3 linked regions of the Homo sapiens genome follow. The protein of the gene in region 2 purifies or fractionates together with the protein of the main gene of each other region. This does not show direct contact. Each region holds a gene or a part of one and is shown on either strand. Other genes may lie near its edges.

Evidence for each region.
Region 1: the proteins of TTC39B (region 2) and HSPD1 purify together in Homo sapiens (affinity purification with mass spectrometry; 3 studies listed by BioGRID and IntAct, with this or other methods). This does not show direct contact.
Region 3: the proteins of TTC39B (region 2) and FDXR purify together in Homo sapiens (affinity purification with mass spectrometry; 3 studies listed by BioGRID and IntAct, with this or other methods). This does not show direct contact.

The regions. Positions count from the first base shown.
Region 1 is NC_000002.12:197,493,236-197,496,984, forward strand, and holds part of HSPD1 (60 kDa heat shock protein, mitochondrial), read right to left. Parts: intron 2,142-3,749; coding exon 2,059-2,141; intron 1,518-2,058; coding exon 1,422-1,517; intron 1,016-1,421; coding exon 922-1,015; intron 258-921; coding exon 89-257; intron 1-88. UniProt on the Homo sapiens protein: Chaperonin implicated in mitochondrial protein import and macromolecular assembly. Together with Hsp10, facilitates the correct folding of imported proteins.
Region 2 is NC_000009.12:15,305,519-15,309,267, forward strand, and holds the start of TTC39B (tetratricopeptide repeat protein 39B), read right to left. Parts: upstream 1,699-3,749; 5' UTR 1,608-1,698; coding exon 1,566-1,607; intron 1-1,565. UniProt on the Homo sapiens protein: Regulates high density lipoprotein (HDL) cholesterol metabolism by promoting the ubiquitination and degradation of the oxysterols receptors LXR (NR1H2 and NR1H3).
Region 3 is NC_000017.11:74,871,262-74,875,010, forward strand, and holds the start of FDXR (NADPH:adrenodoxin oxidoreductase, mitochondrial isoform 1 precursor), read right to left. Parts: upstream 1,734-3,749; 5' UTR 1,684-1,733; coding exon 1,605-1,683; exon of another isoform or gene 1,508-1,604; intron 1,056-1,507; coding exon of another isoform or gene 937-1,055; intron 873-936; coding exon 775-872; intron 1-774. UniProt on the Homo sapiens protein: Serves as the first electron transfer protein in all the mitochondrial P450 systems including cholesterol side chain cleavage in all steroidogenic tissues, steroid 11-beta hydroxylation in the adrenal cortex, 25-OH-vitamin D3-24 hydroxylation in the kidney, and sterol C-27 hydroxylation in the liver.

The sequences.
Region 1 (3,749 bases), on a different chromosome or scaffold from region 2:
GTACACATGATGGAAACTGCAAACAGCAATACAAATAATTCTGTCTTTCACCGAGAAATATAAATCAACAAATACCACTGCTTATTACCTATTCAAGACGAGTGTACTTAGAGCTTCTCCATCAACATCTTCAGCGATTATGACCAAAGGCTTACGGTGAGCATTGGCAATTTCAAGAGCAGGTACAATGGACTGGATACTAGAAATTTTCTTTTCACTCAACAGAACATAGGCATCCTGGAATTCACATTTCTGACCTGTAAAAATAATGAAGATTTCAAAAATATACAAAAAATGACTGCAATACATTTAAATGAAAAGCGAAACCAAGGTTCCAATACACTTTAAAATTCACCAGTGAGTTGGTTTTCCTCCTTCATTTCTCATATGCATTAACTTTTGGAATATATACATTTATTTTTTAGAGGATGACACCAACTAATACCTATAGTTTGACACATATTAGAAAGTATATTTTAAAAACTTCAGGAGGCCAAAGCAGGCAGATGACTTGAGGCCAGGAATTCAAAACCAGCCTGGCCAACATGGCTAAACCTTGTCTCTATTAAAAAATTCAAAAATTGGCCAGGCACAGAGCCTCATACCTATAATCCCAGCACTTTGGGAGGCCAAGGTGGGTGGATCACCTGAGGTCAGGAGTTAAGAGACCAGCCTGGCCAACATGGTGAAACCCCATCTCTACTAAAAATACAAAAATCAGCCTGGCATGGTGGCGTGTGACTGTAATCCCAGCTACTTGGGAGACTGAGGCAAGAGAATCACTTGAACCCGGAAGGCGGAGGTTGCAGTGAGCAACGCGCCACCACATCATGCCACTGCACTCCAGCCGGGGCAACAGAGAATGAGACTCTGTCTAAAATAATAAAAATAATAATAATTCAGTTATTGATTTGTTCTTACCTTTTGATGTATTAATAAAGTATGGAGAAATATAGCCTCGATCAAACTTCATGCCTTCAATAATTTCTAATTCATCATTCAGTGTTTTTCCATCCTATGAAAAGTCAAAGAATTAGGTATATGGATTTCATTGAACACAAAACATGGAATTACAGGCCAGATTAATAAAAACAGACCCCTCTGGCCATAAGAGATGCAGGGTAGAGTATGAAACAGCCCAGGACATCCAATTACACTTCTGCAAAAAATCCCAAAAGTGCTTATTTGAATAATCATTTAAGTTAGGATGGATTCATTTCATGCAGCAAAGGCTAATTCACATAAAACACAGTAAGTACTTTATTCTATACATGTGCTGAGACTACATATGAAGGAATAAAAAAAGCAGTTTTTAAAACAGAATTTTTCTGTTTGAAAAATTCAGTTTTGATCATCAGATAACTCAAACTTTTGATCATAAGATAACTCAAAATTATCTTTAAAAATACAAACACACTTGCCTTTACTGTGATGACACCCTTTCTTCCAACTTTTTTCATTGCATCAGAGATGATATTGCCAATTTCTTTGTCTCCGTTTGCAGAAATCGTAGCAACCTGAAATAATCCAGTTACTCTTCGAAATTAAAAGGTAAGCCTAGTGTCCTCAGTCAGTTCCCTTACCTTTTCCTAGTAACTTCCAAATTGATACTTCCATCCAGGGGAGAGAAGGGGAATTTACGTTATGGTAGTTTTCATGAAGTACTGGTTCTTTGCTCTTTTCCGATTCATTATTTGACTACATTGTTTTGAAGAATATGATACATAAAACTATTCTTGTAACAAAAAGTTTAAAAATGCTGACTTCATTACAAACTGACAAAACTTATGCACCTTTGACAATGGCTAAGAACATTTTCACAATCATATGAATCCATTTTACAGCCATGTAGAACTAAAATGACAACCACATGTAGAACTAAATGACAACCATTATGGTCATAATTCTTTTCAAAGGTTTTAGCAGTAAGAAACAATGATTCTAATATTGATGATTGGGTAGTATTGTTATTCTGACATTGGTGTGATCAAGGGAAAAAAAAAATCACACATGCCATTAAATTTTTTTTAAAAAACGTGTAACATGTTAAGTCCTTACCTGTGCAATTTCTTCAGGGGTGGTCACAGGTTTAGACTGCTTTTTAAGTTCAGCAATTACAGCATCAACAGCTAACATCACACCTAGTTCAACGATATATGTCATTACAATGTTTATTTCTCTCATGGCTTCTATGTCAAGTAGAAATCTTGAGATTTGTGACAAATATTTTAATGCCTTAACTTAAAAAAAAAAATTTTTTTTTTTTTTGAGACAGGGTCTTGTTCTGCTGCCCAGGCTAGAGTGCAGTAGCACAGATCATGGCTCACTGCAGCCCTGACATCCTGGGCTCAAGGGAGTAGCTGAGACCACAGGCTCAAGCCACCATGCTCAGCTTCTTTTATTTTTGTAGACAAGGTCTCACTATGTTGCCCAAGGTGGTCTTGAACTCCTGGGCTCAAGCAATCCTCCCACCTCAGCTTCCCATGTAGCTGGGACTACAGGCATGTACCTATGCTTGGTCTTTAGTGCCTTAATATTAAATTTACACACAGCTTCTGAGACAGTGCTTCTTAATAACACAGAGTTGCGTGGCATGTACTTAAACAGTAACTTTAGGTTCACACAGTAAATAAAATCTCACAATGCCAAAATTTTGAAAATAGGACTAAAACAAGGTAGATGTGTGTAGTTTCAAAAGTCTCACCACTGAACTCATCCTATGCAAATTCCTAACCCAATCATGCTGTTTCCAATAGGGTCCACGACACTTCTCATGTCCATTAGATGATGCAAAAAAGGACCAAAATGGCTAACACTCCCTTATTTTCAACAAGAAGTACAGTTCTTAAATGATAGGAATCTGTTGTGACTATGCCTCTGCAGGTGTCAATTATCTGAAATCCCCTCAATTTAGTACGTATTATGAACTAACAAAATATTTTTGTTTTACATCAGTCTTAATAGTCCCATTTTGCTCAATTGGGAATAGTGCTAGCTCTCTTGTTTGAGAACTGTTACTTCAAAAAAAATCCAATGCAAGGTGCTGGTAAGTCCTCTTCATAACCTTAATTAATACTTGTTAGTGATTTACAGTAAAACTGCTTTTAGTGAAGTATATTCACTTGGCCCATAAACACTGAAATAGATGAGGTAATGATACATTAGTAATGTAGTAATAAATTAGTATGCCAATTCTGACAAAAAATTACCAATAGCTCCCCCCACCTTCACTTACAAGAGGGTTCCTGGTTTGAACCCTAACATACCCTAGATATACATAGCAATTCTGCTGATAGGAAAACCAAGTCTTAGCACACAGCTAATAAATGACAAACATGGGACTAGAATTTAAGTCTATACTGCCATGAACCTCATGAGGAGGAGCAAATTGTTAATTAAGTTGCACTCTAGTTACAAGCACTAACAAAACACAAACCAATAACATGGTGTGTGCTATTAAGAAAAAATAAACTGAGGAAAACATTACTTTCTGACATTCTGAATGATCCAGTGTATTTAGTCTTACTTTCTACAAAACTAAACTAAAAATTAGCCAGGAATGGTGGTGAGTGCCTGTAGTAGTCCCAGCTACTTGGAGGCTGAGGCAGGAGGATTGCTTGAGCCCAGGAGTTCCAGTGCAGTCCAGCCTGGGCTACAGAGCAAGACCCTGTCTCTAAAAACAAAAGAAACCAACTAAGTAAAATATCAAAATTACCTAACAGTACCTACCCACCATACAGCCAAGCTTG
Region 2 (3,749 bases):
TATGGCAAAAACTGAGTTGTTATTAAGCAACATCTTTTCTGCAGTCTTTCATTCATTCAACAAATATTTATTTACCAAGTATCTGTGTGCCAGGCTCTCTGCTACTCTGAAACCTAACTTCCACCCAGAGTTTCACCCACAGAAACCTAACTTCCCTCCTCATCGGCTAATGCATCTCAACCGTTCATCTAGTAGGCAGTGAGCATAGCTGGGGTGACCATTTGTCAAAGTATCTCCGAAACAGTCCCAGTTTACACCTATTATCCCAGTGTTAATTAATAATAGCACCGCCTCAACAATGCCCTAATCTAGAGAATTACATAGTTCTAAGCACAGCAAATCTCCTACAAACAGATCGGGATTCAAATATTTCATTCTACAGTCTTGGGATCCTCAATGCAAGGGACAGGCTGTAAGCAAGGGTCTGGACAGCCCGGCTTGCCCTCTTGTCTCTCTGTCATGCAGAGGAGCTGTAGTTCAGTTTTTGTTTTTTGTTTATTTTACGGAGCACATTTAAAGTATAGTCTTCCTTGTCAGGAGATTCCTGGCACTAAAGAGATGGACGGGAAACTTAACCGCCTCCTCCAGATCGTCCACTATTGCATCATTTGAAACCAAAGCCTTCTAAAGGCAGCGACTCGCACAATTCAAGTCAGGTAAGATGGCAGGAACAGCAGCTGTGGGTGCTGGCTGCTGCTGGAGCCTCGGTCTCAACTTCAAGAGCAGGGAGAGCGCTGTCTCTGGAGTTGCCAGGTGCTGAAATGAATAGTCAATAAATCAACAGGTCCGGCGCGCTAGCCCCTGGGTGCTCAGGCCCGGGCGCGCCACGACTGAAGGAGTGGCTAATTACTCAAACACAGTTGAAACCAAAGGAGGCCGGAGTCGGTTCTCAAAGTGGTTTCCCTCCGGCCACCACCGACTCTGAGGACCTGCTAGGGGAAGTGTCCCGGCCCCGTGGAGGGAGAGGGAAGCACCACAGCCTGGGCTGCGGCTCTAGCCCTCCAGCCCCAGCCCCTGGCAGCCCTGCCCTGCTGTCGCGGCAGGTACCCCTCTACTCATTGTTCCTCAGGCTGCCCCCTCTTTTCATCAATCGTAAGCCTTTCGGTTCTGCCACCAGGAAACTTCCATAGAAGGTGAGATTCCCAGGTCGAGGGATGATTCCACGAACACCCAGAGAGCCAGTGCCAGGACTTCAGGGTCAGACTTCGTAAAGCCCAGGCGTCGCTGGGCCGGCCCGGAACAGCTCAGAGCTGCGGGTCCTATGGTCCCGCGCCCTCACGCCCATCCAAGTGCTGGCAGGACGTGGGTCCTCCATCCCCACGACTCGCGGGGCCGGCGCTCCGAACCTCGGCACTGCGTCCGCTCCGCGCGCCGCAGGGACCCTCCTAGCTCCAGCGGGGACAGACCTACCAAGGCCGGGCGCCCCCACCCGGCGCCCGCCAGCCCACCCCAGAGAGGGGACCAAGGGGGCGGGGCCTCGGCCGTCCTAGCCGGGCTCACTCTTCTCTCCCGGACTCCTGTCCAGGGCTTCAGGGGCCGGGCCCGCAATCCCCATCGGATCGTACCTCGTCCGCTTCCAGCTCCGCTCGGCTGCCTAAGAGCGCCATATTCCTCCTCTGGCTGCTGCCACCCAAAAACCAAGCAGGGAACTCAGAGCCGACTCCTGCTCTCGGCTCTGGGCTCAGCCCAGCGCAAAGGAGGGCAAAAGGGGACGGCCCGGCGCTCCCTCCGGGTCTCGGGCGGGGCCTGAGTGCAGCTACTCGATTTCCCCGCCCCCGGAGCCGGCAGGCCAGCACAGCATCCATTTCCTCCCCGGACGCCGCGCCGCTGGCCGGGCCACTTGCCCGGCCCCCAGCGGGCGGCAGCCCCGCCCAAGTGGGTGGAGTCACCTCCCAGATAAAGTTTCCCGGTCTGGCACGCCCTCTGGGAGGGTTTCCTAAGCTTTCCTGCCGCCTGTTCTCTGCGGTGGCTGGGCACACCTGGAAAGAAGCTAGAGAGCGCGGGCATGACGAAGCCAAGGTCAAAGCAGCGCCCCACCTGGGGTCCGTGGAAGCATCCACCTGGTCTTTGGTCCGGTGCCAGTCCTTTTCCCTCGCCAGGTGGCCACCGCATCTCGCAGATGGTGTGGCCTGAGGGCAGCCTTGGGTCACGGTCACTGGTCCCCGAGAGGCCTCTGACACACCACCCACCTGGACTGTAGGTGGAAGGACTCTGCTTGCTTCTGTGTTCAAAAAATAGAAAAAAACGCGGGACAGAGATTTATACATATTGGAACTCCTCTACTTCCCCCTACCCGGACAGTGTATTCTCCCCATAGCATCCTGTATTTTGTAACTCCAAACATAGGTGTATAATTCGTGCTTGAACTATAAACTCCATGGGGGTAGGATGCTATCTGTCCTCTTCAAGACTGTATCCCCAACACCCAGAACAGTGTCTTGCACATCGTAGGTGCTCAACAGATATTTGTTGGCTGAGTTTAGAAACTGAACCTTGCTTCTGACATGTAAAATAACTGGAAAATTAAAAGCTAGATCTTTAAGAGTTTGGGGGAGAGAGGTCAGATTTACTTTACATACAGAAAAATGCACCAAGTTAAATGTGTGATTCAGTGACAAGTGTTTACAAAGCATCCCAGTCATAATATAGAACATCCTGAAAAGTTTTCTGTGACCCTTTGCTGTCAATTTCCTACCTCCGCTCCCTAGCCTCTGTCAATCACTGATCTGCTATCAACATCGATTTGCCTTCTCTAGAATTTCATATAAATTTAATTAGAGCATGTGGTCTTCCATGTCTGGCTCATGAAAGGCTATTTAATAGTCATCCAGTGATAACTGTAAAAACAGCTAATAGTTCTTGAGTCCTTACTATGTGCCAGGACTCTACTGAACCTCTTGCATATAGTATTTCATTTATTCTTCATAACCCCATAAAGTAGGGTGCTGTTCTCTTTCAGATGAGTAAACTGAGGCTCAGAGAGTTCAAGTAATATGCCTGAGGCCAGACAGCAGTTAAGTAAGTAGGGATGCCAGCATCTGAACCCCAGCAGTCTAACTCTAGGGCCTAGCTGATAACCATTGCTTTGTACTGTACTGGCTCTAGCCACCCTCCCTCTCTTTCTTTCTGTGTCAGTAGAGCAGTTGTCTGTGCAAGTCCATTACATACATTTTCAGTGAGTCACTTTGCATCCTTAATACTTGCTGTACAATTTTAATGGCTTGGCATGTACTTTTGTACTAGAATAATAAAATGGTTTCTACAGCAGAAACATTGAAAAAATGGGTTAGATCGTGTGATGGTTGCTCAACTCTCTGAATTGTCTAAAAATCCTTGAATTGTGTACTTACAATAGGTGGAACTTATGATTATGTAAATTATATCTTAGTAAAGCTGTTTTAAAAAAACTAGCTGACACAGGCTAGGTGTGGTGGCTCACGCCTGTATGGGATTACAGCACTGGGAGACTGAGGAAGGAGGCTAACTTGAGTTTAGGAGTTCGAGACTAGCCTGAGCAACATAGCAAGACCCAATTTCTAAATAATAATACTTTTTTTTTTTGAGAGACAGTTTCACTCTCATCTCCCAGGCTGGAGTGCAATGGCTCGATCTTGGCTCACTGCAACCTCCGCCTCCTGGGTTCCCACTAATCTGTAAATTGCTTAGAAGGAGGCACTATCTTATTCATCAGTGCAGGTACTCAATAAAAAAGCTCCAGGTGCAGTGGCTCATGCCTGTAATCCCAACAC
Region 3 (3,749 bases), on a different chromosome or scaffold from region 2:
CGCTGAAGCCCCTTGTCCTGGGCAGTCCAGGCCAGTTGGTCACCCTACATTTCAAGCATCTGTGTGTGTGTGTATAATTAAGATATTCATCCTTTCTCTTGTCTCTCCACGGACACTCCAAGCCTCTCCAAAGCTAGGCAACTGTCTCACGTCTCAGTTAACCTGGGTATCCCCTCTCTACTCTGTCCCAAAGTCTGATGTGGAGTCTCAAGTAGAACCTGTAGCCTTGGCTTGGGGCCCTTCCTGCCGAGGCAGACACTGAAAGCCTTGAGATCCTGGCCTTCACAGGGGAAGGGGGAGGGGCAGAGGGCAGGCTGAAAGAACAGAATGGCACGGAGGACTGGAGCTATGGGTGAGGAGGGCATGGCAAGGCAGGTAAAGTTACAGAAAGCGGAGGAGGTGGGTAGCCTCGAGATGTAGGATGTTTGGGATAGAGTGAAGATAGACGAGAGAGGAGGGAAGATGAAGGAGGACAAAGTCATTTTGCAGGTCTACATAAGCCCCCTGGAGTGCTTGGCCAGGGAGGCAAAGCTGACCACCTGCCACTGACCACTCACCACCAATGTGCGTTTTACACCCCTGTCACACTGAGGACGGGAGGGGAGGGGAGCCTCAGGTGTAGGTGAGGAAGCAAGTGGGAAGTGTCCAGGCCAGATGGCTGGGAGCCCCTTCCCCATAAGGCAACCAGGAGTGCTCTTAAAACCCAAAGCGGGTGAGGCTTGCCCTTAGGACTGGAGCAGCAGGTGAATGATGGACTATGAGTAAGTGGCTTACCTTTAGCAGGTGTTGGGCCGTGTAGAAGCCAGCTGGGCCACTGCCCACCACACAGATCTGGGGGGTCTTCTCCTGTGTGGAGAAATGGTGGCAGAAGCCTGGGGCCAGGCAGAGGAGAGGGAAAAGGTCAAAATTAACTTCTCTCCCCAGTCCCAAACCAACCTGAATATCCAACAGAAGCTGGAACTTCCCAAGCTTCACCCTCACCTGCATCCTCCTTCTCTTGTTCCTCAAGGCTTTGGCATTTGCAGGGTCTCTTACTTCATCTGAACCCCCAAAGGCTGTGGGTTCATCCAGAGCCCACATCTCACCCATGAACCTACTACACCACTGCCAATGGCCTGCCCAACAACACTTCATTCCCTATCCAATCGGCTAGAATCCCACATCCTTCCAACGGCCTCCATATCATCCCAATCTCGCCCCCGTGGGTCTCCCCACGGTGTCCCTCCTCTAACCCCTCTCTCTCTCCACAAAACGCTATATTGCCCATATAGACCCGTCTTATTCCTACAGATCCCTGTTTCGACTCAGACTTTCCTCTCGCCCCACAGACCTCCGTATCATCCTCCATTCACCCCGTCTCACACCTGTAGATCTCAAAGTCTCTCCTTTTCACCTTTGTTGACCTCCGTCTCTAACCCTAGAAGCCTCACATCTCACGCACAGATCTCCGCCCACCCCCGTACACCACCGGGATCTCGCCAGCAGGAAGACACCCCTTCAGTCTCACCCTTCTCCAGCCCTGCCCCAGCTCTGCTCCGACCCCTACTCAGCGCTCGCAGGCCTCCCCGCGCTCCCATCCAGCCCCAAAGGCGCCCTGCTCCTACTCGGGGTGCTCCCGGCGGGAGGCAGCCGGGTCCGAGGCCACGCCGACCAGCCCCACCAGCGCCAGCAGCGCGAAGCCATGGCTGGGAGCAGCAACCTGCAAGTGGATCTGTTCCTAGCTACTGCTCCGCAGGGCAAGCCCGCTCCTGCCCGGGCCCGCCCACAAGCGAGGCCCCGCCCCAAACCCCGCCCCCTGCGCTCCGGGAAAGCGGAGCCTTGCGGCTCCACCCCGACTCCCGAGAGAATCCCGCCCCCAAAAGAGAGACCCGCCCTTAACTACGCCCCACCGTCGAAGCCCCGCCCCTCGGAGCATCCGGGGTATACGCGATTTAATACATTTCTCCCCAGGCCTCACCTTCCCTCCAAATCCCGGAAGCCTAGGGTTGGAAGAGAGCGAATCCCCATCGCTGTTTCAGTCCCTCCCCAAGGAAACAGCCACTAAGAAAGGAGCTTATTTTACTTAGCCGCGCCCCTCTCGGGAGGCTCTCGTCGCTCACTGATGACGCAGACGCCCTTGCCATTTGATTGCGAATCCTCCCACGTGACTTCGTCCTAGCCAATCACGAGTCCGGCTCCAAGCGAGCCTTCCCGCCGTTGGGAAATAACCAGAGTGCGGAAGTCTGGGGCGAGGGAGCTCCTTCCCGGAGCCCAGCAGCCTCCTTCTTCGACCCCGGGTGTTGTGCCGATGTAACCCCTCAAATCCCCGTCTTTGCCGGGCCAGGGAGAATATTAAACCCTGGAAAGCTCGTCCCACCTCACCTCCTTTCCCATTACATAGGTGAAGAAAAGCGGGGCGGGGCAGTGGCTTACGTATGGTACTAAGGACAGAGCGTCCGACCCCCGTGCAGCCGAGCCGGGACCAGAGTTGAGGTACTCCCCTCGGGTTCAGAATTTAAGGGGGCTCCAAAACACTCAGTAATCAAGATAAATATAATACTGCAACGTTTTAAAAGGTCAAAAGTAATGCAAAAAGTCTATGATCAAAATGTTTTTAAAAATAAGGACAGGATCCGTAGTCACAGCTGACCCAATAAGCCTAACCCCTCTTCCTTTTCCCCATGGGCCCTCTTGTCAAATATTACTTCCTTGGAGAAGCCTTTTCTCTGACCCGTCCCCTCCCAAGTTCCAAGGAGTTAAAGGCCTCTCATTCCACAGCATCTGACCTTATCCCATCATGACTTACTACACTGGTTGTCGTTTTTAATGAGATTTTAAATTCAATAATAACATACAGAAAAGTGCACAAATCATGAGTGTACAACTTGACAATATATCACAAGGTGTAACCATATAACCACCACCCAGATCAAGAAATAAAACATGGCCAGTATCCCAGGAGTCCTCTGTGCCCTTACTGGTCACTTCCCCTCCCTCCCACTGGTAAGTAAATGCTGTCTGCTTTCTAATAGGTCACTGTGTTTTATGCCTGTCCCACTAGACCAGGAGTAGGCAAACTATAGCTTGCAGGCCAAATACTGTCCACCAGCATGTTTTGGATGACCAACAAGAATGGCTTTTACTGTTTTTGTTTTTTTGGAGGTTTTGGGGTTTTTGTTTTTGGTTTTGATTTTGTTTTTTGAGACAGGGTCCTGCTCTGTCACCCAGGCTGGAGTGCAGTGGTGCTCACTGCAACCTCTGCTTCCTGGCTTGGCTCAAGCGAGCCTCAGGCCTCAGCCTCCGGAGTAGCTGGGACCACAGGTGCCTGCCACCACGCCTGGTTCATTTTTGCATTTTTTGTGGAGATGGGGTTTTGCCATGTCACCCAGGCTGGTCTCGAACTCCTGAACTCAAAGCGATCCTCCCACCTCGGCCTTCCAAAGTGCCAGGATTACAGGAGTGAGCCACCACACCCAGCTTGTTTTTATATTTTTAATGGTAAAAAACAACATTTTGTGACACGTAAAAATTACATGAAATTCAGACTTCAGTTTGAATAAAACTTTATTGGAAGACATCCATGCTTACTTCTTTACATATTGTCTATGGCTATATTTGTGCTTTGATGGCACAATTGAGTAGTTGTAACAGAGATCATATGGTTCGCAAAGCCCCAGATATTTACTATCTGGTCCTTTACAGAGTTTGACCACCCCTGCACTACATTATAAGCTCCATGAGGATGGGGACCCAGTCTCAGCTCTTATACC